7 linked regions of the Homo sapiens genome follow. The protein of the gene in region 7 interacts with the protein of the main gene of each other region in a pairwise test. Each region holds a gene or a part of one and is shown on either strand. Other genes may lie near its edges.

Region 1 (3,646 bases), on a different chromosome or scaffold from region 7:
TTCTTCCCCAACTGGCATATAAAAAGACAAAAAGTGAGTACTAAATTCTTTAAATTCAAAAATTTGTAAGTCCACTGCCACATAAGATAAAGTCCTGAGGTTTAAGATTTCAGCTCTCAGAATCACCATCCCTAAAGGGTATTCACCAAGAAGAAAATGCAAAGAGTTCTTGCTCTAGAAACTTTTAGTTCTCTTTTTTCACTCCTGAAGAAATATATTATGGCCCATATTTCATTTCTGGCTTGTAATACCCTCCGAAGTCCATTCTGAAAAGTGTTCTGCCTTCTCTTTCACATTGATTTTATTAGCTGGCCTAAAAGACAATTTTTGCCAAATTAAATGTTTTACTGTGTTTTTTTTTTTTGAATAATATGTTTCCTACTCAAATGTGTTCATACAATGCAGCTCAAAACACAATACTTTTTAAACTTATTAGTTGTTAGATTTTAAAGAGACTAAAGTCAACTTACTGCTGAAAACACACAAAAAGGACAAACTGGTTGAAATTTTCACAAGAATGGAAAATGTTTAATAAACTCAGAATGGTGGGCTTATTAAACTATAGTGTTATTTACAGCCATAATTCATCAACCACAAACACAATAATGTGTTTGCATGGCATGCTACAACAGAAGCTTTATTCAGTTCATTCAGAAAACATTGGCAAAATAAATTTCAGTTGCAAATTCACAGATACAAGCTTCAAAGTATAAAGTTGTATATAACAAAAAATACAGGTAATATTTATTACAATAACTTACAGATACAAACTAATGATAAACTACAATTTCACAAAAGATTGTAAACATTTTGCACACTTGTCAGTCCTTTCTTTTAGGCAAAGTGCTCTTTTGATGACAAATAAATTAACAGATACACACTAGAGTGAACTATTTCCAGACAATACAAAAAATGTTTTGATTTGTTTTCTTCTTGTAAACATAAGTTTTACAAAAAATGAAGAATTAATAAAAGTGTCTTGCAGGCCAACTATAGATACATACCTGGGCAGCAAAGTGATGTTGGAAATGCTTTAGGTGTTAAATAAAAAATTAACAGTAATATCTTTTCAATGGTATTTTATACATAATAAATGACAAATTTATATCCTTAATCAAGTCTATCCCTGAAAAAAGAATTAGGTATGACTTATTGGCAGTTGTGTCATTGAATGGGGTAACAAGGGCTGGAGTCCAAGAGTTGTTGGTGAATGAGCTACAAAATAGAAAGAAATTTGTGGATCAGTTTTGTAGGGTGCATAAAACTGATTTATAAACAAACAAAAACAATCCAAGGCATTGTTTTCATCACTCATTATAGCTGAGGGCACCAAGCTACACTCATTCCACTGACCTCAGCAGAAGCATTAACCTATTCAGCATAGTGAGAGTCCAGGAACAGTTTTACCCCCAAATCTTTATTTGGGGCCACAAGATTTTGCCATTTTAATGTCCTCCATCCATACCCCATTCACTGCACTTCACCCTGAAGCTAGAAAGACATGGGTTCCTCTTCAGAGATGCTGCTGCTAGCTTTCTCATGAAGGTGTTTGTATAGGATGATCTTCCCCAAGTTTCTTTCATTAATGTTTAATTACCTCCTCCCTAAGCATACATCAAAACACACTGGACTCAGGCAACACTACTGTGTTTCATGTGAACACACACAATTTTAATGCTAGTATAAGTAAATGGCAACAACAGTACAGGCTCTGATTTTTTATCTAACCAAAACTTAAAATGAAGTTTCTGCTTTCAGCAAGGGCTATGTTGCTTCAAACCAAACCTTTCTCTGAGACCAACTAGGAAATCTGGACAAAATTTTTAAAATCTGTTTGAAGGCATCTGAAAGACACTTAAGTAGTGAGGACTTACAAAGTCCCAGAGTGGAGGGAAAGAAAATGAGGATGCTTTTCCTCCCGCAAGGATAGTGACAATTTAAAACAAAACAAATGTCTGATAGGCCAAGAAGTTTAGCAGAGCATTCAGAAGTTAGACTTTGGCAGAGTGGTGAGAAACAAAAATTAAAGAGCAGGGCCCGCTGAAGAGGAGAAGCCCTAGTTAAAAACAACAACAGAAAACAAAACAAAACAGGGATTCATTTGTGATTCCAAAGGGCTAACTCCAAGGAGTAGTAAAACAAAAATATACCAGCCCTCTTAAGGATTTGTGCCTGATTGGATTAAGTTGATTTCACCCTATTCTGACTACCTGGGGGGTAAAACTAATCTTCTCTAGTGAAAGATATCATCCACAGCCTCAAATTATTTTTAGTTACTCATACCCAACATCTGAAATGCAATAGCAAATAAGAAGACAAATAACAAGACATGACTTGAAAGAAAATAAAGAGGAAAATTAAGAAAACAGAATAGACCCACCAAAGATCCAGATATTGGAGTTATCACACCTGAACTTTAGTATAACAATTTAAATAAGGATAAAGTGACAAAATGGATGATTTCAGCATATAAATGGAAATCTTAAAACTGAAAAACATAATAAATTAAGAAGTCGGTGGATGATTTTTTTACAGGATATTAGATATAGAGAGCATTAGTGAACTAGAAAAATAGTTCAGAAGAAAACAAGAAAATTTTTTCATAGGAGCAAAAACAATATTTGAGGAGGCAAAAGCTGAGAATTTTCCATAATGAAAGACATCAAACTACATATTCAAGAAGCACACCCAGGCACAGTATGGTAAAACTTTTTCAAGACAAACACAAAGAAAAAAGTTGAGGAAAAAAGACGTTTATTTTCGAAGGAGCAAGAAGGTCAATAGCTGACTTTACCAATAAATGGGGCCAGGTTAATTAGCTATCCATATGCAAAACAAACAATGAAAATCAGAAGACAAGGTAATCATATCTTCAAAGTGCTGAAAGAAAATAACTACCAATCCAGATTTCTACTTATAGAGAAAATACCACTTACAACTGAATCAAAAGAAATACTTAGAGATAAACTTAACAGAAGATGTGCAAGATTACTAAACAGAAAAGTCTAAATCATGAGATGATTTAAAGATGATCTAAACAAATGGAAAGACATGCTAAAGTTCATGGTATGGAAGAAAATACTGTTAAGATGGCAATTTCCTAAAACTGATCAATATATTTGCTGTAATAGATTGTATCAAAATCTTAATTGTTTTCCCTTTTGGGGTAGAAATAGACAAGTAGGTAAATTTTATGAAAACATAAAGGGCCAAGAATGGGCAATACAAACTTGAATAACAACAAAATAGAAACACATTATCATATATTAAAAATTATAGACCTACCATGATTAGAATGATTAAGTAGCAACACAAAAATAAATAGACCAATAAAATAGAACAGAAGGTACAGAAATTGACACAACATACGGACATTTGATTTATGGCAAATATGTCTCTACAGAGAAGCTGGACATTTTCTATTTTCATCAACATAACAAAAAAGCTTCACTTTCTACCTCACACCACACACAAAATTCAGTTCCAAATGAATTGTAAATCTACACAGCAAAGGTAAAACAAAGTTTCTAGATGATATCATAGAAGATATATCTTCATTATCTTTGAGTATAAACAATTTCTTGCACATGTCACCAAAAAAAGCATGGCTCATGAAGGAAAAATGATGAAATAAACTACATTAAAA
Region 2 (3,500 bases), on a different chromosome or scaffold from region 7:
CCTGCTCTTACACATGTGCAATTATGCATTTATAGGTTATCCTTCCTTCCTTCCTTCCTTCCTTCCTTCCTTCCTTCCTTCCTTCCTTCCTTCCTTCCTTCCTTCCTTTTCTTTCTTTTTTAATTTTTAGATGGAGTCTCGCTCTGTTGCCCAGGCTGGAGTGCAATGGCGCGAACTTGGCTCACTGCAACCTCCGCCTCCTGGGTTCAAGCGATTCTCCTGCCTCAGTCTCCTGAGTAGCTGGGATTACAGGCACGCGCAACCACGCCTGACTAATTTTTGTATTTTTAGTAGAGTCGGGGTTTCGCTATGTTGGCCAGGCTGGTCTCAAACTCCTGACCTCAAGTGATCCGCCTGCCGCGGTCTCCCAAAGTGCTGGGATTGCAGGCGTGAGCCACCGTGCCAGGAGGTTATTATTTCTTTAATGTCGGTCTACCCTATCTGACTATAAACTTCATGTGTGCAGGGCCTATGTCTGTTTTGTTAATCTTTGTTTTCCCTAGCACCTAACACAGTGGCTCCCTTTTAGTAGTCAGCCAATAAGTTTATTGAATGCATGCATGCATGAATAAATACATGACGTTGAATAAATTACACAATTTACTGAGCTAGAAAGCACTAGGAAAAGAACAGCTTTGGGAAGGAAGATCTTGAGTTTAATTTGGATATGCTGAGTTTAGACCATGAGATTTCCTAGAAGTCTGTGTATTTCACAGCCTTCCAGAATGGGTCAAATCCTCTCTTTTGGTTTCTTTGTCATAATTTCCCATTTATATGTCTGTTTCTTCCACTAGATTGCCAGCTCAGTGTAGGTAAGAACAATGACTCATCACTTTATCTCCAATGGCCAGCTTGGCACATGGATGGGCTCAAGAAATGAATGAGTGTGTGAAGTAAGTGCCCCAGTTTACAAATTCCCAGAAAGGGTGAGAGAGGCAGACGATGATACTTCCTTATGTCTTCCTCCAGCTGTGTGTCTAATGCCTGGCACAAAGTAAATAATAAATATTTGTGGAATTGAACTGACTTTCCTCTAGCTGTAGTCTAGGTCTACACTTTGCTGTTTGGGCTGTAGAATGACCTTCCTTAGGAGTCTCGCTCTGAGGTTCCACGGCAATAATAAAGATCATTATCTCAAAATATGGAGGGCAGAGAGGTTGTCTAGTTTGAGAAAACCTGAAGTAAATCTCCTTTCTGGTAGTGGTGGAATAAAAACATTTTGTAAAACGAAACACCTTGCCTAAGCTATTGTAGCAGTGCCACTTTTTATACTTACATTTGATCTACTTATCACGAGTAGTCAAGAATGAAAATAACTCCAACTGTGGTTTCTATGAGAGATGTGAATGTTTATGGAATAACAAATACTGAATACAGATAGTTAAAGTAGTGTAGACTTTAGTACAACTGTCATTAATTGCAAATGGTGGGGAATCATCTAATGAAAAAGAGAGGCACAAGAAATCTTAGGGTAATTAATGTTTGAAAAATATATCTTGTAAGAGGTTATTTATGTAGAAAGGCACGATTATGTTATTGTGTGTGTCTGGAGTGTTTTGAATGAGATGTTTACAACAAGATAGAATGTAAATGAGTAGAATTAGGTAACCATAACTTGGTTGCAAGAATACCCTGCCACATACATGATAAAGAGGTAGAGGCTGTAGTTTTACATAGCATGTTATCAAATTGTTTCTAATTTTCTGTCCATGTATCGGTGCTTCCCATTACTCTGCCAGGAGAGCAGAGACTGTGACTTATTCACGTCCTATTCCCAGGGCCTTCAAGGAGTAAATGCTCAAAAGTGATAGAATGAATAAATCAAATGTGTTATTCAAGCTGTTGACAGTGATTGTATCTATATTGTGGTGTAATATTTTCCTTGTTTTGCTTATCTGTATTTTCAAATGTTTCTACAATGGTTTCAGGATAAATGAATGAATGAATGAGTGAATACTTTTGTAATTACAATAAAAAAGGCTTACAGACTTCTATCACTTATTCGTAGATTTCTCTAGAGATTTCACGTGCATGTAGTTTGAATTGTACACACATATTACATATATATGCACTACATATATACATACGTAATTTATGCACAAAATATATTTTTATGAATAAAATATTAACAATAATATAATATATTTAAAATACAATTTTTTAAAATCAGCAAATATTAAACAAGGAACTCTGTTCTGCTATGGTCTCTACGTGGTCCCAGGTGACTCTGGTGGCCACCCAGAATCCTACCTTGAGGAAGGTCAGGCAATCCTGGTTCTCACTCTTGTCCTTGCCTCGTAGGTCGAAGTTGTAGAGGGCCCTGCAGAGCGGGGGCGGCTGGGGCAGCTGCTTGATGACTTCCACGGAGCTGGCTGGGAAGTTCCCGCTGATGCCATTGATTTCCCCCTGGTACCAATTCTCATCAAGCTGTCTCCGGAGAAGGATGATATCTCCCTTATTAAACCTTAGGTCACCGGGATTCTGCCCTCTGTAGTTGCATAAGGCCTTTGCTCGAGGCACCTGCAATGGCACAGACCAATAAGATATGTACTTAGCTTAGAGTCTAGAGGAACAGAAGATACAAGCATTCCCCCTTTTATTGTACTTTGCTTTAACATGCTTTGCAAATACTGAGTTTTTTACAAATCAAAGGTTTATGGCAACCTGTGTTAAATAGGTCTATCAGCGCCATTCTTCCAACACCATGTGCTCACTTTGTGTCTCTGTGTCACATTCTGGTAACTGTTATTAACTTTAAATATTTTAAACTTTCATTATTATTATATCTGCTATGGTGATCTGTAATCAGTGATCTTTGAGGTTACTATTGTAATGTCTCGGGGGGCGCCACAAACTTTGCCCATACAAGACAGCAAACTTCGTCGATAAATGTTTGTGTTCTGACTGCTCCACAAACTGGTCATTTTCCCATCTCTCTCCCTCTCCTTGGGCCTCCCTATTCTCTGAGACACAAAAATATTAAAATGAGGCCAATTAATGACCCTACAATTGCCTACAAATTTTCAAGTGAAAGGAAGAGTTTCACATCTCTCACTTTAAATCAAAAGCTAGAAATGATTAATCTTAATGAGGAAGGCATGACTAAAGCTGAGATAGGCCAAAAGCTAGGCCTCTTGTGACAAACAGTCAAGCTGTGAATGCAAAAGAAAAGTTCATGAAGGAAATCAGAAGTGCTACTGCAGTGAATACATAAATGATAAGTAAGTGAATCAGCCTTATTGCCGATATGGAGAAAGTTTGACTGGTTTGTGTAGAAGATCAAACCAGACACAACAGACCCTCAAGCCAAAGCCTAATCAAGATCAAGATCCTAACTTTCTTTAATTCTATGAAGGCTGAGAGAGATGAGGAAGCTGCAGAAAAAAAGTTTGAAGCTGGCAGAGATAGTCTGAGGTTTAAGAAGAGAAGCTGTCTCTATAACATAAAAATGCAAGGTGAAGCAACAAGCCATCAATATTGAGGCAAGACCCACCACCAGC
Region 3 (3,500 bases), on a different chromosome or scaffold from region 7:
TTCAAGTGATTCTCCTGCCTCAGCCTTCCAAGTAGCTGGGATTACAGGCGCCCACCACGACGCCTAGCTAATTTTTGTATTTTTAGTAGAGACGGGGTTTCGCCATGTTGCCCAGGCTGGTCTTGAACTCCTGACCTCAGGTGATCCGCCCGCCTCGGCCTCCCAAAGTGCTGGGATTCAGGTGTGAGCTACCACCCCCGGCCTTTTTAAAAGGAGAAACTGGAGGCCCAGTGAGGCTAAATGACCAGCCCAGAGTCACAGAGCAGGCAAAGGACAGCCATGGAGCTAGAATCCAGGCCCACCTGCTGTACTTGGGGAATCTGGGAGCCAGCTTCTCACTGCCCTGCCCCACAGAACAGAGATGCTCCCTCCACCCCAGTGCACAGCCAGCACCTACCAGGCAGTCCACCTTGGTGACATGCCGGGCCAGCGTCCGGGCATCCACTTCTGCCAGCAGCTCCTTGACCTTGCGCAGAAGGCCCACCTCCAGTGGCCGGTTATCCCTGGGGATCAGTAGTGACTGGAAGGTGGCCGGGTTGAAGGAAGAAGTGACTTCCACGATGGGGACTGTGAAGGTCTTGCCCCAGTCCCCTTCAGGGGCCCCATTTTCTGACAGTTCCTTTAGCCTCTCCCCATAGCTCCTGGCCTGCTGGCTGGAGGTCTCAGTCGCTGCCCACTCTCGGCTGCCACGCACGGGAGGCTGGAGCTGGCAGTAGTGGCCAGAGTCCGGGTCACTGTAGCTGCTGAGTGATGGTGACGGGGAGGCCTTGCCAAGGGTGTGGGAGGGGCTGGTGTGGGGGCCCTTGTCTGACTCCCCATGGGTCTTTGGGGCACTTCCGGGACACAGCTGGGGCTCACTGGAACGGCGGGCGACAGGGGAGGCAGGCAATGCTGTGGCAGAAGGGGCTGCAGGGGCGGCATGGACACGGGTTACTGCAGAAAGGTAGAGAGAGAGGCCCCGTTATAGCAGCTCCCCACCAAAGTGAGATTCCCGCACCCCTTCCCAAAGAACAGGCTCCCTCACTCCTTGTAGGGAGTACAGAGGTGATGTCCCCACCTCCCTGCATCACCAGAGACCAGGGCCGATTGACTCTGGCAAGCTGACCAGCCCAGGTGATGCTCTGAAATCACCAGGACCCAGGAGTTTGCATGGCCCCACCCTGAGGCTGCTGCAGCCTTGGGGACCCACTGCTTGGAGGAGCTTCAGTGATCCGGGGAAGCTGAGTACCTGCTGGAGTTTCTTGTGCCACATGTGATTGTTTCTCGACGAATTAGCAATAATGATTTCCTTTTTTTTTTTTTTTTTTTTTTTTTTGAGTCACTGTCTCGCTCTGTGGCCCAGGCTGGAGTGCAGTGGTGCCATCTAGGCTCACTGCAACCTCCACCTCCTGGGTTCAAGCAATTCTTCAATTCTTGAGCCTCAGCCTCCCGAGTAGCTGGGATTACAGTCATGTGCCACAACGCCTGGCTAACTTTTTTTTGAGTCAGAGTCTCGCTCTGTTGCCTAGGCTGGAGTGCAATGGCATGATCTCAGCTCACTGCAACCCCCGCCTCCCAGGTTCAAGCAATTCTTGTGCCTCAGCCTCCTGAGTAGCTGGGATTACAGATGTGCCCCACCATGCCCGGCCTGAATTAGCAATAATGATTTGTTGCTAAACCTTGTGTGCTAGGAGCTGGCAACATGCTGGAGACATAATGACAGTAAAACCATCATCAAACCTCAAAGGCGATATTTACTAAGCTCTTAGTGCCTGCAAGACCCTTCTTTGTACCTCAGTCTATTTAATCCTTTCAATGTCCTATGAAGTAAGTACTTTTATAATCCTCATTCTACAGATGAGAAAAGTGAAGCTCAGAGAGGTGCACTAACCTGCCCAAGGTCACCCAGCCAGCAAGTGGTACAGCTGAGATTTAAGTCTTGACATCTGGGCTGCTTTACTATACCAGATTGCTTAGAAACTGTCCAATAAGTCATTCTGGCAAGGAATTTTAGGTTTTATACTCAGGGTATTGCTTTGAAATCAAGTTTGTAGTTATGACAAAGTTGGTGGCTCTGTGTTTAGGGAAGGATTTGTGACAACCGATACAGACAGCAACACTTCAATGGAATGCCACCCTAGGCGAAAGTTCCTCCTGAGTCAGCCCCCTCTCGTGACACTTGGCCTGCCACGTGGACAATACGGCCTGTTGAAAACATTCTTTTTATTTTTTTTCCAGAAATGATCTATTGGAATGTTTCTAACAGAGAAACTTTCTTCGTATTTATAAGAAAGCACAGTGTTCCGTACTTTCCACTTAATTTTGCTGCAAACCTAAAACTGCTCTAAAAAATAAAGTCTATTAAGAAAAATAGAGGCCAGGTGCAGTGGCTCATGCCTGTAATCCCAGCACTTTGGGAGGCTGAGGCGGGTGGATCACCTGAGGTCAGGAGTTCGAGACCACCCTGGCCAACATGGTGAAACCCCATCTCTACTAAAAATACAAAAATTAGCTAGGCATGGTGGCACACGCCTGTAATCCCAGCACTGTGGGAGGCCAAGGCAGGTGGATCACCTGAGGTCAGGAGTTCGAGACCACTCTGGCCAACATGACGAAACACCGTCTCTACTAAAAATACAAAAATTAGCCAGGCGTGGTGGCAGGGGTCTGTAATCCCAGCTACTTGGGAGGCTGAAGCAAGAGAATCGCTTGAACCCAGGAGGCGGAGGTTGCAGTGAGCCAAGATCCCACCACTGCACTCCAGCCCACAAGAGCAAAACTGTCACAAAAACAAATAAATAGTTGCTAAATAAACAAACCATGGATACATCTTATATGTTGATATCAACAGTTCTGTTAGCAGGATTCCAGTGTCAGTTCTTTCTCTTGGTAAAGGTCGCGCCTCATAAAAGAGGCGGAAACACACATAACCACACATAGGTGACAGAAGTCTTCAACAACAGATTCCCTCCACCTGCTCCACCCCCTCTGCTGGCCATACCAGTGCTGTAGGCAGGGGAGCTAGGGCTCTCGGAGATGGGCGACATGGGTGAGTGCAGGTCTGGGATCTGGTCCATGCTGAGGGCACAGCTGCGGATGGAGTCCCGAGGGCGGGGCAGCGACGTACTGTGGAGCAGACACCATCATGGGCAGGGAGCCCGGAGGTCAGGGGCCTCAGCCTGCCTCTGGGACCCCCCACCTCTGCACCTTGAACTTCAGAGGCAGAGAAGGCTTGGAGATTATCAAATCCAACCTCCCGACTGACAGGTACCAAAAAAACTGAAGCCCAGATGAGGGAGGGGGCACAGCGAGTCAGGAGCAGAGCTAGGAACCCTGGTGGCTAGAACGCCTGGTTTCTTTTTTTCTTTTTTTGTCTTTTTTCTTTTCTTTTTTGTTTTTTTTTTCGGAGATGGAGTCTCACTCTGTCGCCCAGACTGCAGTGCAGTGGCGTGATTTCAGCTCACTGCAACTGCTGAACCTGCCTCCCGAGTTCAAGACATTCTCCTGCTTCAGCCTCCGAG
Region 4 (3,500 bases), on a different chromosome or scaffold from region 7:
AATATGGATGCCCTGTACAAATACTAGATATGCCAGAGAAGCCATTGAGTCTGCTAACTGTTTATTTTCTTCTTCTTCAAATTCAAGGTAATTCCAAGTTCTCTTTTTCCTTCCATGATTAAAAATCATTTTGGGGAAAGGGTGTCCAATTGCTGATAAAAAACCCTATGAAATGGATAAAAAAGGAAACCATAGCACACAGACTCTAAAATGCCCCCCACCCCGTGTATTCAAACTCCACATTCTCACCAAGGGGAGGTGTAATCACTCCCTTTGAGCGTGAGTGGGACCTATGAGACTTGCTTTCAACCAACAGAATGCGCCAAGATGTCACTCCCATGATTAGATTATATGACAAAAGTGAAGGGGTTTTTGCAGATGTAATTAAGGTCCCAAATCAGTAGATTTTGAGTTGGGTGGCCCTAACTTAATCAGGTATATTTTTAAAGGGGGTCCAGGCCTTCCCTGAGAGTCAGAAACTTTGCTCTCTGACTCTCTCCCTTGCTGGCTTTAAAGAACTAAGCTGCCATGTTATGAGAAGGCTCATGGACAGAACTACATGGCAAGGGACCAACTACAGGCAGCTCCTAGAAGCTAAATGTGGTCCCTGGCTGACAGCCAGCAAGAAAATGGGGACCTCAGTCCTACAGCTTAGAGGAAATGAATTCTGCCAGCGGAGGAAACCTGAAAGTGGATCTTTCCCCAGTTAAGCTTCTGATAAGACTACAGACCCAGTCAACAACTGGCCTGTAGCCCAATGAGACCCTGAGCAGAGGACCCAATTAAGCTGTGGCTGGACTCCTGATCCATAGAAACTGTGAGATAACAAAGGTATGCTGTTTTAAACTGCTAAGTTTGCAGGAATTTGTTATACAGCAATGAAAAACTAATACAGAAGCCAACAGCAAAATCGTATTTTACATAGCATTTTATACATCAGAAGTATTCTAAATTAATTCAGAATCATAGTTTAAAAAGTTTAAAATGATGAATTTTATGTATATTTCACCACAATTTTTTTTAAAAAAGTGCTTCAGGGATATTTGAGAGCAATCTGAAACGTGAGACATACAAATATATGAAGCAAGGGTAAAGCAACTAAGATGAAGAATACTCTAGGAACAATGCTCCACTAACATTGTGCCTGTAGAGAGTGGGATGCAGGAACGCTGGGCAGGGCAGCTGGGCCTGAGGAAACACTGTTGATCTCTCAGTCATCAGGGTTCTCATGTGAGACGAGAAAGAGAAGCATCCTTGCATGAGTGGGTAGGACCACAGGGCTAAATAAAGCTTTCCGCTCAGGAAACAAGATCACTCCTATGCCTCTTATACTGGTACTAATTCTAGCGTACCAGAAAGCACCTACCTTCAGAATCCACTGACATTGATTTTGAGTTTTGGCTCTACCATTTACTACTTGTGTGACACTGGATGAGCCATAAAATGACATAATACCTATGTCAAATATTTATCGAGCAGCTCCACAAAAAAAGCGTAAGAAAGTTAAAGTCACAACAAACTACAAGAGTTAAAAGGGAATGAATGACAAAAACAGCTAAAGCAGAATGAATAACTTCCACACAAGTCACTCTTTTATTCAATAAACACTTAAGTGCAAGGTGCTGGGCCTGACTTTGTGGGGAATTATAAAGCCAAGTATAAGTCTTTTCCAGCCTTCAGGGACTTAAAATCTGCTGATCCCAGATGGTTCCATTAGTCATTTCAGAATACAAAAAGGAACCATGGAAAATCATCCTCAGTCACAAGAGACTGCTATTCAGCGACCAGATGCTAAATATATACTGCTGCAGTGATTTTCAAAGCCATGCATTCTGGTTATAGCTACAAGACAAAAAGTTTATTGCACTCTGATTCCAAATGTCCTTAATCATGAAGCTCCATTTCTTTATTCAGCCAATGCTACATGTGTTTTTTCCAGAGTAAGGTAGCCCTGTTTTTTTTTTTTTTTTTTTTGGCGACAAGGTCTCACTCTGTCACTCAGGCTGGAGTGTAGTGGCATGATCATGGCTTACTGCAGCCTTGACTTCCCCAGGCTCAAGCAATCCACCCTCCTCAGTCTCCTGAGTAGCTAGGACTACTGGTACATGCCACCATGCCCGCTATTTTTTTTTTATTTTTTTTATTTTTTATAGAGATGGGGTTTCGCCATGCAGCCCAGGCTGGTCTTGAACTCCTGGGCTTAAGTGATCTGCCCACCTTGGCCTCCCAAAGGCCTGGGCCTACAAGCGGGAGCTACCGTGCCCAGCCTAAGATACCCTTTTTAAAACATTATTATATGCAACTAGATTCTACAGTGCTGCTCTGGATATCTGAGATCCAATCTGTTCCCAAATCTGGGCCTTCACTATCTATCCACACACCATCCAGCAGTCTTGCTCAGATCCAGGCTGTACCTGGCACCATACAATTTCTCAATATTCATGGCAGCTTTTGTCCTTTCAGAAATGTTCCTGTACTACAGCCTTTGGGACATTCTAGTAGTTCTGTACCAAAATAACTTGTACCAAAGTGAGGATGGCTGAGGCCTGTGAATCCCAACCACACCACACTTACCAGTACTTCTCCAGCACAGAACAGAAGACATCTCCTCATTTCATCTCCAAGCTGGTCTCACCTCTACTTCTAGACTGCTACGTGCATCCTTACTGCTGGCTCTTTCTACTTGCAATGTTCCTTCTACTGAGATTTTAGAACCACTCACCTACATCCTCAGTCTCTTCATAGGATGCTTGTTCTGCCTCACTGCTTTAACTAAACCTGTCTGATTTCTGGTGGGAGATGCTCATTCTCACACCTTTTATACCACAGGGCCTGGAATGCAGCTGTTGGGTAGAGGAGTACAGGTAGGGGCTTAGCACAGTATTGTAGTATTGGCTTTTTCTGTACTTTTCAACAAAAGCACATTTTCCTTTGATGCAGATAACATACTGTCCTTTTCTCTGTCATATGCTGACTTCCTGGTAATTTCCTGACATTCACTGAAGACTCTGGCACCTTCTCATAATCTTTTTCTCTACCCAATTCCTGCTATGATCCTGGGAAAATTCAATGTTCATGGAGATAACCCCTATAACAGGCTAGTCTCATGGTCCTTTATTATTATTAATTTATTTTTCAATCAAGCAACAAGTCATTGCATCCACTCTCATGGTTCTCAATTTCTAAATTCTAGTGACTTTTAGTTCTAATCCATTTCAGTACCTAATCCCATGCTGGATCTCTGAACATCTGGAACTATTCTGTATTTGATACTTTAAACTCCAATATCCCATTTTCTGACCAAAATCTGTCATCCTGTCTCTCCTAGCAATCTGCTTTTCTACTTCTGACTTCTCCAGTCCTGTGATTCCTACATTTTGACCTACCTAGGCATTCCCTCCTAACCCCCCTTCTTTCCCTATCCAACCTGAATCATGGATTATTGACCAGCTGAACTATCTGCACCCTGTATTTCCTTCAGCAGTATCTACCCAGTAAAA
Region 5 (3,500 bases), on a different chromosome or scaffold from region 7:
ATAATCATTGCTGGAATTTATTATTTCATTTAGGATTACAAAAGGGTAATATTTATTTATTTGTTTGTTTGTTTTTTATTTTTTTTGAGACAGTGTCTCATTCTGTCACCCAGGCTGGAGTGCTGTGGAGCAATCTGAGATCACTGTAACCTCCACCTCCCGGGTACAAGCAGTTCTCCTGCCTCAGCTTCCCGAGTAGCTGGGACTACAGGCATGTGCCACAACGCCTGGCTGATTTTTGTAGTTTTAGTAAGAGACCGGGTTTCGCCATGTTGGCCAGGCTGGTGTTGAACTCCTGACGTCAGGTGATCTACCTGCCTTGGCCTCCCAAAGTGCTGGGATTACAGGCATGAGCCACCATGCCCGGCCAAAAGGATAATATTTTAAATCTGTGATTCCTTCCCCAGTTACTAGCTGCAATTCTGTAAAAAAAAAAAAAAAAATTCTTTTTCCTTGTCCTGTATGGATATTTCATTACTCTGAAACACTTACTTTTTGACTCTCGTATACCATTTTTCAACGTTGGAAGGCAGTCTCCTCATTCTTTCCACTAGTGTCCAATGAATAGTGTGGCTTTTGTTGGTGGTTTTGTTTCTTTTAAATACATACTGTTTTTTATTTTTAAAAATTCAAGCTAATATATTTAATTATGAAACTTATCTTTTTCATACCAAGTAGAATAATAATTTTGAGTTTTATAGAGTGATAAATATATTGTAGGTAGGTTTTTATCCTGGGTATGTTTTTGTGATCCATCTTCAAAGCTCTCTTCCTTACATCACCAATGGCATGCTCAATGAATGCAAATTAAAGATTTGTTCAAGAATTTTAACACAGTTTGGGTATTTCCTTGAATTTAGAAAAAAGAGATAGCAGTCACATCACTAACAGAATCTTTTACTATAGTATAAATCAATACTTTAGAGCTTCATTTGGACAAGCAGATTTGTTCACAATACAGATTAAACTCCAATATTATTATAAGGCCTAGAATAATGGAATTCTAACAGTGTTTAGGAAGGAGTAATATGTAAGCCCAAGATTTTCAAATATAGCCAAGTGATTGTTTTTTCCATTTTATAACCAAAGCCAGGAGATCTGACTCTAGTTTTGGCTCTACTTAAGCTTTACTTTTCTCATTTGGAAAGTGAGAGTTTTGGACTAGATCTACTGTAGGTTCTTTTCCAACTCTCTATGATTTTATGTAAGTTCGCAAAAATTTGTTTCTACTAATTAGTATATTTTCGCTTTTCAATTATAGAGTCTATTAATATTTAGGTTATTTTAATTTATTAAAATAATTTCATTATGTTTAGAAATATGGTATTTCTATAATTGTGATAGAAAAGTTTTATGCTCCTAGGAACTTCAAGAGCAGCTGAAGATCACCACCTTTAAAGATCTTGTAATCAGGGACAAAGAACTCACAGGGGCATTAATTGCTTCTCTTATCAACTGCTACATCAGAGATAATGCCGCTGTTGATGGCATTAGTTTACATTTACAGGATATCTGCCCACTTCTATATAGCACTGATGATGCAATTTGTTCTAAGGTATGATACTTTATTACCTATTTCATTGTTTGTTATAAGAGGTATCATGTATGATGAACCATCTTGTTTCACTTAATATAGGACCTCAGTCAGTTAGATCTCTTAACCTCTCCTAGCCTCAGAATCCTCATCTAAGAAAGGGGTTGGAATATGTGGCTTCTTAAAACCAGTGTATACTCTTTTAAGCTTAGCTTTTCTTTTTAAAAATATTTTTATTTATTTATTTGACACAGGGTTTCACTCTGTTGCTTAGGCTGTAGTGCAGTGCTGTGATCATAGCTCACAGCAGCTTCTAAGTCCTAGACTCAAGCAGGCCTCTCATGTAGCTAGGGGCTACGGGTGTGCACCACTACACCCAGCCAATTTTTTTGTTTTTTATAGAGACAAGTTCTGATTTGTTGCACAGGCTGGTCTTGAACTCTTGGCTTCAAGTGATCCTCCTGCCTCAGCCTCCCATAGTGCTGGGATTATAAGTGTGAGCCACCATGCCCAGCCCTCCTTTAAGTTTTTCATAAAGAATATTCTCTCTTTTTTTTTAAGACTGAGTACGATCTCAGCTCACTGCAACCTCCACCTCCCAGGTTCAAGTGATTCTCCTGCCTCGGCCTCCCAAATAGCTGGGATTACAGGTGTGCACCATCACACCTGGCTAATTTTTTATATTTTTGGTAGAGACAGGATTTCACCATGTTGTCTAGGCTGGTTTTGAACTCCTGACCTCCGCCTGCCTCAGCCTTGCAAAGTGTTGGGATTATAGACATGAGCCTCTGCGCCTGGCCCATAAAGAATCTTTGATAGTGTTTCTAGGCCATATTAAAAAACCAAAGGTGAGAAATTAAGAAAAATCACTAAATTTAGAAATTAAGGAAATTTAGGGGATAATTTATCTCCTTAGCTTAAGGAAAAGTACTAAAACTTCAAGTAAATCTTTTAGTGAATTAGAGTTAATGGGGGCATTTTTATTGATCCTTTCCTACAGGTGGAAAAAATAAATAAATCAGTGTCACATGGACTGCCTGCTGCCCAATAATGTATTGACTAGGCAAGAGAATTACCAGACAAAAGTTCTCTTGCTTAACATATTTGGGAGAGGAATTAAGAATAGCTAGGAATCTTTGGTCAAAAACTTTTCTGCCTAAAATTAAGAAGTAAGTTTGTAGAGTTGTTTTCATTTTAATGGTAATAACCATATATAAATTTAGACATAGACTAAAACTTAGTTGACAGCATCATCTGTCTGCTTGATTTTATATATTTTTAAGTTCTTGTTATCTCCTCTTCTAGGCAAATGAGCTTCTCCAGCGTTCCCGACAAGTTCAAAATAAGACTGAAAAAGAAAGAATGTTAAGGGAATCATTAAAGGAATATCAAAAAATTAGCAATCAAGTGGACCTTTCCAATGTTTGTGCTCAGTATAGACAAGGTGAGAAATAAAATGTTTCTTGTATCTTTTACTCAACTCAAAAGACAAACAATAGTGTATGAATGAAGCAAGCTAATGATGAAAAGCCACTTTCCAGATGCAAATCTTCTTTCAGCATCAGAGGCCGAGTGAAAGGACGTAGGAATGTGGTATCATTGTGTTGCAATATTTGATGACTACACTGACCTGCAGAAGCTGTAATGTTCTTTCTATTTTTTGAAATGTACTTTTTTTTTTTTTTTTTTTTTTTTTTGAGAGTCTCGCTCTGTCAGCCAGGCTGGAGTGCAGTGGCACGATCTCAGCTCACTGCATCCTCTGCCTCCCAGGTTCCAGCAATTCTCCTGCCTCAGCCTCCCGGGTAGCTGGTATTACAGGCGCACGCCACCACGCCCAGCTAATTTTTTATTTTTTTATTTTTTTATTTTTTTTATTTTGAGACAGAGTCTTGCTCTGTCACCCAGGCTGAAGTGCAGTGGTGCGATCTCAGCTCACTGCAAGCTCTGCCTCCCAGGTTCACGCCAT
Region 6 (3,500 bases), on a different chromosome or scaffold from region 7:
CTGGTAACCTCAGACTTCAATATTTTCCTATTAGTTACTGTAAATATAGACTTGACCTAGAAATAGAAGTCCTAATACTGCCTTTTATCAAGGAAACTTAAAACATTTGAAAAACAACAATGAGGCTTTCATTTTTCTGATTTGAAAATATGGCTTCAGGATCCCAATTTCATAAAAGCTACAACTGTCCTATAATAAATCCAAATTTCCCGAGGGAAAATTTTACAATGTATGTTTTAAACAAAACAACTTGAATGTTTTAGTATATAAATAATACTATTTTTCTATCCATGGCTATTATAAAATGTATAGAAAATATCCCTATTACAAATTTGTTATGGAATCAGACTGTTTAAAACTAATGTTGAGTTGATGATGATTAGTAGCCGATTATAATGTAAGACACTTATGAAGTTGTTTTTCTTGCTGAAACCAGAAGAAAGTAAAGGTCGTGAACTGGAAAGAGATTAAATAATTGAAATGAAGTCTACAATGGCAGCATTTCTTTTAATGTTCCTAAGTAAACCTAAAAGGTGACTGGAAATCACTAGTTACGTTACACTAGTTATGTTACCCTACAACTTGAGTACCTGGGTAAGGGAGAGAATATTCTCTTAGAATCACTCTTGATATAGATATAGGTTTGTTTACAGAGACTTCCTACCCTCTGTTCTATATTAGATAACATTATTAGTATTTTTTAAATAAGCCTGATTTCAGTAGCCTTTTTATGAAAAAACTGCCACAATCAAAAATAAGAATGTACCCATAGTTTTATTAAGAAGTTATAAATACATAATTCCTTGTCTTTAAGATATCTGTGTTGAAAGCAAAAGTTCTAATTAATACTGTATGAATTTTTGTATATAAAGTAGAATTGATGAGGAAGTTTAAAATATCCTGATATTTGGGATTAGAAAGTAAAATATTTAGGAAATTATTTAAATTCATATTTCTTGACATTATTGCATTCATTCCAGCATTGAGTTTTCTAATAAAAGTAAGATAAATAGCAATTCTTAATTATCATGCTGTCCTTTAAAGCTTATTTTGGCTATCTTCCAGCTGATTTTAATGTACAGCATGCTATAATTAAATAATAGCTAAAGTTGGAATTGGTTCTATTCATCTTAAAGACTAATCATGTTTAATTATTTTAAATTGCATATAGTAATTAGATTTCAGAAACCATGATTTTGTAATATGCCTGTACTGTTTCTAACATTTTCTATTTTAAGTCATTTATAATATTTTTAAAGGTCTCAGTTATGTCTAACTACATGGATAGCATAATGAAATGAGTTGCACTTGTATTTTATAAAGAAGACTTGTGATATATGATTGCATTAGATAATTTTCTGGAAGTTCCTCAAACTAACAATTTAATTATGGATATGCCTGTTAAATCCTAAACTGCCACTGTCACGTGGAAAAATACAGATAAATATGTTTTCAAAATATGTTTTTCTGTATTATTTCTGAAAAACTCAAGACATGGACATGCAGTTAAAAGGAAACACTTCTGCAACTGTTGAGTTCTGAGTATTGGCAAATAAGAACTCACGTTTCAGCTTAAGTTCAATTAAGATGATATTTGCTGAATAAATGACGGGGAACCAGCAAAGACGGGTTTTTACTTTGGTGTTTGCAGCATAACAGATCCATATGGAACTCCACCACACTTCACTGCACCTTGGTCTTCAAAACGGAAATATACTAGTTTACCAAGTAGGAATTTTGGCCAAAAAAGCAGTGGTTTCCTCTTCCCTATACAGGTGAGGTAGACATAAATTCAGCATTAAATTCTGTACCTTAGAGAAGCATTATTTGAGCAAAAATTCAGAAAGCTTTCACTTTCCTGAATCCAATCAAGGGTCTTACTTTCAAAGATTTTCCCACCTCAAAAAAACAAAAACACAATAAAAAAGAAAGAAAACAAAAAGGCCTGGTAATGTTCTCATTATATTTTCTAATTTCTCTTTATATATTCATATTATAATTTAGGGAAACTTATTTTTAACAAAGAACATTATCTGAAAGTTTCGGTGATATTTTGTTTTTTTCTGTTCATTTATACGGTTGCCTACTTATTAAATTTTTGATTTTTTAAATTTAATCAGAAATTCAGTTTTTCTCTCTTCCCTCTGAGATGTTTTCCCAGTGGTTAAAGTAAATTACAAGTCTTATAATGAATTATATCCTCTGCTTTGAATGGGAGAGTTCATCCAATCCATTGTTAGAAATAGTTCTTCTTTTCAGGTTCCTTGTCCTAGTACATTTTTTCTGGAATAGTTGAATTTGAGGACAGGGGCAACATAAACCCGTCAGGCTCCAAATCTTCTGATGTTCTATTCAATTCAGCATCCCTCAGAGACTAATATAGCTGCAAGGATTAGCCGCAAGGAGTCCAACAAACTATAGCAAAAACAGGATTCTAGGCCGGGCGCGGTGGCTCACGCCTGTAATCCCAGCACTTTGGGAGGCCGAGGCGGGCGGATCACGAGGTCAGGAGATCGAGACCATCCCGGCTAAAACGGTGAAACCCCGTCTCTACTAAAAAATACAAAAAATTAGCCGGGCGTAGTGGCGGGCGCCTGTAGTCCCAGCTACTCGGGAGGCTGAGGCAGGAGAATGGCGTGAACCCGGGAGGAGGAGCTTGCAGTGAGCCGAGATCCCGCCACTGCACTCCAGCCTGGGCGACAGAGCGAGACTCCGTCTCAAAAAAAAAAAAAAAAAAAAAAAAAAAAAAAAAAAAAAATAGGATTCTAGCCAAGAGCTGTGCCACTCGTGAAGATCCTCTAAGAGTACAAGCATGGGATGCCATGAAGAATGGCAAGTGTTTTAAATGCACAGAAAGAAAAACATATTCAAATGAGATTTTGGCTATGTTGGAGAAAATTTATTAGTATAAATATTCATTCTAGTCTCCTCTAAACAGAAGTCCCTGTACTTACTTCTCGCTGAGGACAGCCAGCTTCTCAGAGGCACTGAGTCCTCTGAAGAGGTAACACCACAGAGGCAGCAGCCTGGCTGGTGGAAATGTGCTTCATTAAGCCTTCGGCTGCATGGAGAATCCTCTTCCACCTATTGAGAGGAGTCAGCGACTTCTGCCTCACTGGGTCTTTTTAATACCAGATATTTATACTTCATACAGGTTGCCTACACTTTATGCTACTAAACAACAAAAGTTTAAGAGAGCAACGCTTGGCTGCTTAAAAATGAGCCTTTTTGGTAGATTATCAAGATGCCTTCACACCCAATTATTTCAGTTCTCTGTGCTAAAGTTAACGAGGGAAAGGAGATTAGATAACAATAACCTCAGCTGTTGTTGTGCTATAACTGTGTCATCTGGTGAAGGGTTTGAGCACTTTCCAAAACGCGTGCATTTAACCCGTCAGACGTATTCTTGCACTATAGTAAATACTACATATTTTAGTTTGCTCAATATCTCAAAATCTAGGTTTCAAAATTTTTATAGCATAGTATTACTAGTAGTTAAG
Region 7 (3,133 bases):
TTCCCCGGACCCCCTTCCTTCCGAAGGACACTCCTGTTATCAGAGGTTGTAGTCCCTTGACTCCAGAGAGCTCTGGTGGCCCCAGGCTGGGTCTAGGAGGAACAGTGTGGCACTGGTACAAGTGTTGTGGCCAAGTACTGGGGTCCCAGGCTGCAGGGTAGAGGGAAGGGGGACAGAAGGGAGGCAGGGAGGCTCTGCCTCTGTGCCCTAGGTCTCCACACCCCTCCCCTTGGTCCCTCTGGGGTCCCTCCTGGTGGGGCTGCCAAGGGGCGCTCACCTTCAGGTGGACATAGTCATACTCCTCGGCCATCGGAATGCCCTCGTACTCATTGTGGTGTCCTGCTGGGTCATCCTCCATCTCCCTGCCCTCTGGATCCCCCTCGACCTTGGGGCCTCCATAACCAGGCAGGCGGGGTGGGGGTGGGGGCAGAGGCCGGTCCTGGATGCTGCCCTTCCGGCCTGGGGCAGGAGAGGGCACTGGGGAGGGGCTGGGGGCCTCAGGGACAGGCAGGGCAGGCAGAGGGCGGCGGGACAGGCTCTCAGCTGAGGGGAGCCGGGGCCTGTGTGGGGGTGGGGGGCTTCTGGCCAGAAGCTGGGCCAGGGTGTCCTGGTCATGGGAGGCCAAGGCTCCAGGGGGCTCTGGAGAAGGGGGAGCCTCTGGCCCCAGCAGAGGCACATCGTAGATCCCCTCATCAGTGCCCCCGCCCTCCCCGTCTGCCAGCAGTTCCTCGGGTGCTTCATACAAATTGAGTAAGGCTGACGCTCGTTTCAGGTTGGAGGGGGCAGCATAGATGGGGGGCCCCGGCTCCCGGCCTCCTTCCCACTCCAGATCTGGTTCCAGCTCTGCAGGTGGCTTTGGGGTCAGAGGCACATCATAGGGAGCATCATCCTCTCCAGGGGGCTGCGGGGCAACCCGGGTCAGAGGGTGGGAAAAGGAGGCAGGGCAGTCATAGGGGCCACTGGAGGGCACCCGGAGGGCGGTGGGGGGCACATCGTAGACCTGCGGAAAGGAGTGGTCAGTCATCTGTCAGCTCAGCGATGAACCCTCCCTTGGGGCCATTTGTCTCCCACCCAACATACACAGGGACCTCTAGCCCTCACCTCCAAGGCATCTCTGGGAGCAGCCAGCTGGGTCCCACTAGCTCTGGGGATTTTGTAGATGAGGTCAGGAGAGGGTGGGCAAGGTCCAGCTGGAGGTCCTGAGGTTGGACAGGGCCGAGCTGGGGGCGGCACCACATACACCTGAGGGATCAAATAGATGGGGGGTCAGGAGGAACGGAGGGGCCGGTGATCAGATAATGTCTGAGTGCGAGGAGCTTAGAGACCTTCTAACTCTCCCTGTATCGAGAGGGCCACAGCTCAGAAAGGTTGGTAGACAGGTTTCGTCCAGCGCAGAGCAGTGAAGAGCTGTGGCCTCAGGGCTCTTCCTGCCCACCTGCTGCAGGCCCTGGGTGGGGCTAGTTGGGGAGGAATGGGGCTCTTCTGGCTTGGGGTTGGGGAGGCTCCCACTCTCACCTCCTGGTCCTCATTGCTGTGATCTGGGGCTGGATATGGTGAGCCAGGCTGGGCTGGGGACGCAGGAGAGAGGCTGGGCTTGGGTGCTGGGCCAGCAGGCAAGAGCTTCACCCTGTTGGCGGGCACAATGCCCTGCTGGCCGTGTAGGGAGCAGAGGCACCAGCCGTCCAGTCCACCAGCGCCCTCTCTCTGCAGGACCCGTAGGACATCCCCTCGGCGGAAGGACAGCTCCTGGGGGGACTCAGCGGTGTTGTCATACAGTGCCCGGGCCAGCTGGGTCTGGTTGGGGAGGTGGGAGTGGGGAGAAGGGTCTTCAGACCCCTTTCAGGTCACGTCACCCCTGCTTAGAACCCTTCGGAGCTCCGCATTTCCCTCAAGCTAAAAAACCTGAACTCTGGATGCAGCTTTCTGCCTGGGCCCTAGCTTCTCTCCAGCTTCACCGCTTGCATTCTCCCTCTTCCTTTCAGTTCCTTCAACTAGACCAGCTCTCCTCAGAGAGGCCGATTCTTTACTCTTCTCCCCGCCCCATTCTCTGTTTGTCTCCACCTATTGTTTCCATCCTCGTACTTTATACTATTTGTCTATTTGCTTCTTTTGTATCGATTTCTTCCCTTATACTGTAAACCCTATGAACATAGGAACGGCTATATTTCTAGTCCTTGCAATAAGGCCTGACCTGGAATTGGTCATTACACATGTTGAATGAATGTCTTCCAAAACATGTGAAGCCCTGCTACAGTCTCTCATAGACCTTCTCTCTGTTCCCAAGTCATTATCCCTCACTAGCAAAAGGTTAGATTAAGCAGCCACAGAGACCTCTCATTCTGAGAGACTGGGAGAGGCCTAGTCCAGACAGTGTGCCTAGGCATAATAAGAAAGAAAACAGAAACAAAGCAATTGTTTTGCTCTCAGTCTGAGCAAATAAGTTTCTACCAGAAGAGGCTGAGGTTACCATGGAGAAAAGTGTGTATTCTTGTGTGTGTGTCACCACTGCCTGGGATCCTTCCAGCAGGCATCATCATTTAGCAATGGGCCCTTCCATTGCAGGACAGAGTGTGTCTTTGTGTGTGTGTGTGAAGGGGGTTGGCAGGCCAACCAAAAGGAAACATGTATCATTCTGTTTCCAGTCCTGTCTGGTGGGGGCTTATAAGCTTTTTCCATCAAGGGCCACAGGCTCAGGTAATAACTCACAGGTACCAAGTGCAAACAACGTTTCCAGACACTGTGCAAATCTTTGCATTAATCAACTCATCTCATTTAATTCTCACAACAACCTTACGAGGGAGGGACTGTCATTACCCCATTTTGGAAAGAAAACTGGAAGAGGGAGGTTAGTACTTTGTCTGATGCCATATCGCTGGCACAGCTTGTGGAGCATAATCTGAACCCTAAGCTGCTTGATCCCAGAGCCTGCGCTCTCAATCACTTGTGCTACTGCTTCTCCACAATTACAAATGTAGGAATCTACTTAAAAGAAAGAGTAGTAACAGTGGCTGAGAGGGTCCCTAACTCAAAAGCAAGTCAAGCGCATAGGAAAGCCTTCTTATACCCTATTTCCCTTTGCTATAACCCTTCGCAGTGCTCTTGCTCCATGATGTCATTTGGTAGAATCAAGCTA

Evidence for each region.
Region 1: the proteins of EFS (region 7) and LHX8 interact in binary tests that used the Homo sapiens proteins (3 or more experiments, as listed by UniProt).
Region 2: the proteins of EFS (region 7) and SH3RF2 interact in binary tests that used the Homo sapiens proteins (3 or more experiments, as listed by UniProt).
Region 3: the proteins of EFS (region 7) and SH2D3C interact in a two-hybrid assay, tested with the Homo sapiens proteins (2 studies listed by BioGRID and IntAct).
Region 4: the proteins of EFS (region 7) and GLMN interact in binary tests that used the Homo sapiens proteins (3 or more experiments, as listed by UniProt).
Region 5: the proteins of EFS (region 7) and NUP155 interact in binary tests that used the Homo sapiens proteins (3 or more experiments, as listed by UniProt).
Region 6: the proteins of EFS (region 7) and SORBS2 interact in binary tests that used the Homo sapiens proteins (3 or more experiments, as listed by UniProt).

Annotation. Positions count from the first base shown.
Region 1 is NC_000001.11:75,158,388-75,162,033, reverse strand, and holds the end of LHX8 (LIM/homeobox protein Lhx8), read right to left. Parts: intron 1,216-3,646; coding exon 1,139-1,215; 3' UTR 501-1,138; downstream 1-500. UniProt on the Homo sapiens protein: Transcription factor involved in differentiation of certain neurons and mesenchymal cells.
Region 2 is NC_000005.10:145,999,078-146,002,577, reverse strand, and holds part of SH3RF2 (E3 ubiquitin-protein ligase SH3RF2), read right to left. Parts: intron 2,521-3,500; coding exon 2,251-2,520; intron 1-2,250. UniProt on the Homo sapiens protein: Has E3 ubiquitin-protein ligase activity. Acts as an anti-apoptotic regulator of the JNK pathway by ubiquitinating and promoting the degradation of SH3RF1, a scaffold protein that is required for pro-apoptotic JNK activation.
Region 3 is NC_000009.12:127,744,167-127,747,666, forward strand, and holds part of SH2D3C (SH2 domain-containing protein 3C), read right to left. Parts: intron 3,106-3,500; coding exon 2,981-3,105; intron 934-2,980; coding exon 398-933; intron 1-397. UniProt on the Homo sapiens protein: Acts as an adapter protein that mediates cell signaling pathways involved in cellular functions such as cell adhesion and migration, tissue organization, and the regulation of the immune response.
Region 4 is NC_000001.11:92,271,488-92,274,987, forward strand, and holds part of GLMN (glomulin), read right to left. Parts: intron 166-3,500; coding exon 1-165.
Region 5 is NC_000005.10:37,308,607-37,312,106, reverse strand, and holds part of NUP155 (nuclear pore complex protein Nup155), read left to right. Parts: intron 1-1,363; coding exon 1,364-1,555; intron 1,556-2,534; coding exon of another isoform or gene 2,535-2,585; exon of another isoform or gene 2,586-2,684; intron 2,685-2,839; coding exon 2,840-2,978; intron 2,979-3,500.
Region 6 is NC_000004.12:185,805,695-185,809,194, reverse strand, and holds part of SORBS2 (sorbin and SH3 domain-containing protein 2), read left to right. Parts: intron 1-3,500. UniProt on the Homo sapiens protein: Adapter protein that plays a role in the assembling of signaling complexes, being a link between ABL kinases and actin cytoskeleton. Can form complex with ABL1 and CBL, thus promoting ubiquitination and degradation of ABL1.
Region 7 is NC_000014.9:23,359,040-23,362,172, forward strand, and holds part of EFS (embryonal Fyn-associated substrate), read right to left. Parts: intron 1,795-3,133; coding exon 1,516-1,794; intron 1,243-1,515; coding exon 1,102-1,242; intron 1,001-1,101; coding exon 278-1,000; intron 1-277. UniProt on the Homo sapiens protein: Docking protein which plays a central coordinating role for tyrosine-kinase-based signaling related to cell adhesion. May serve as an activator of SRC and a downstream effector. Interacts with the SH3 domain of FYN and with CRK, SRC, and YES.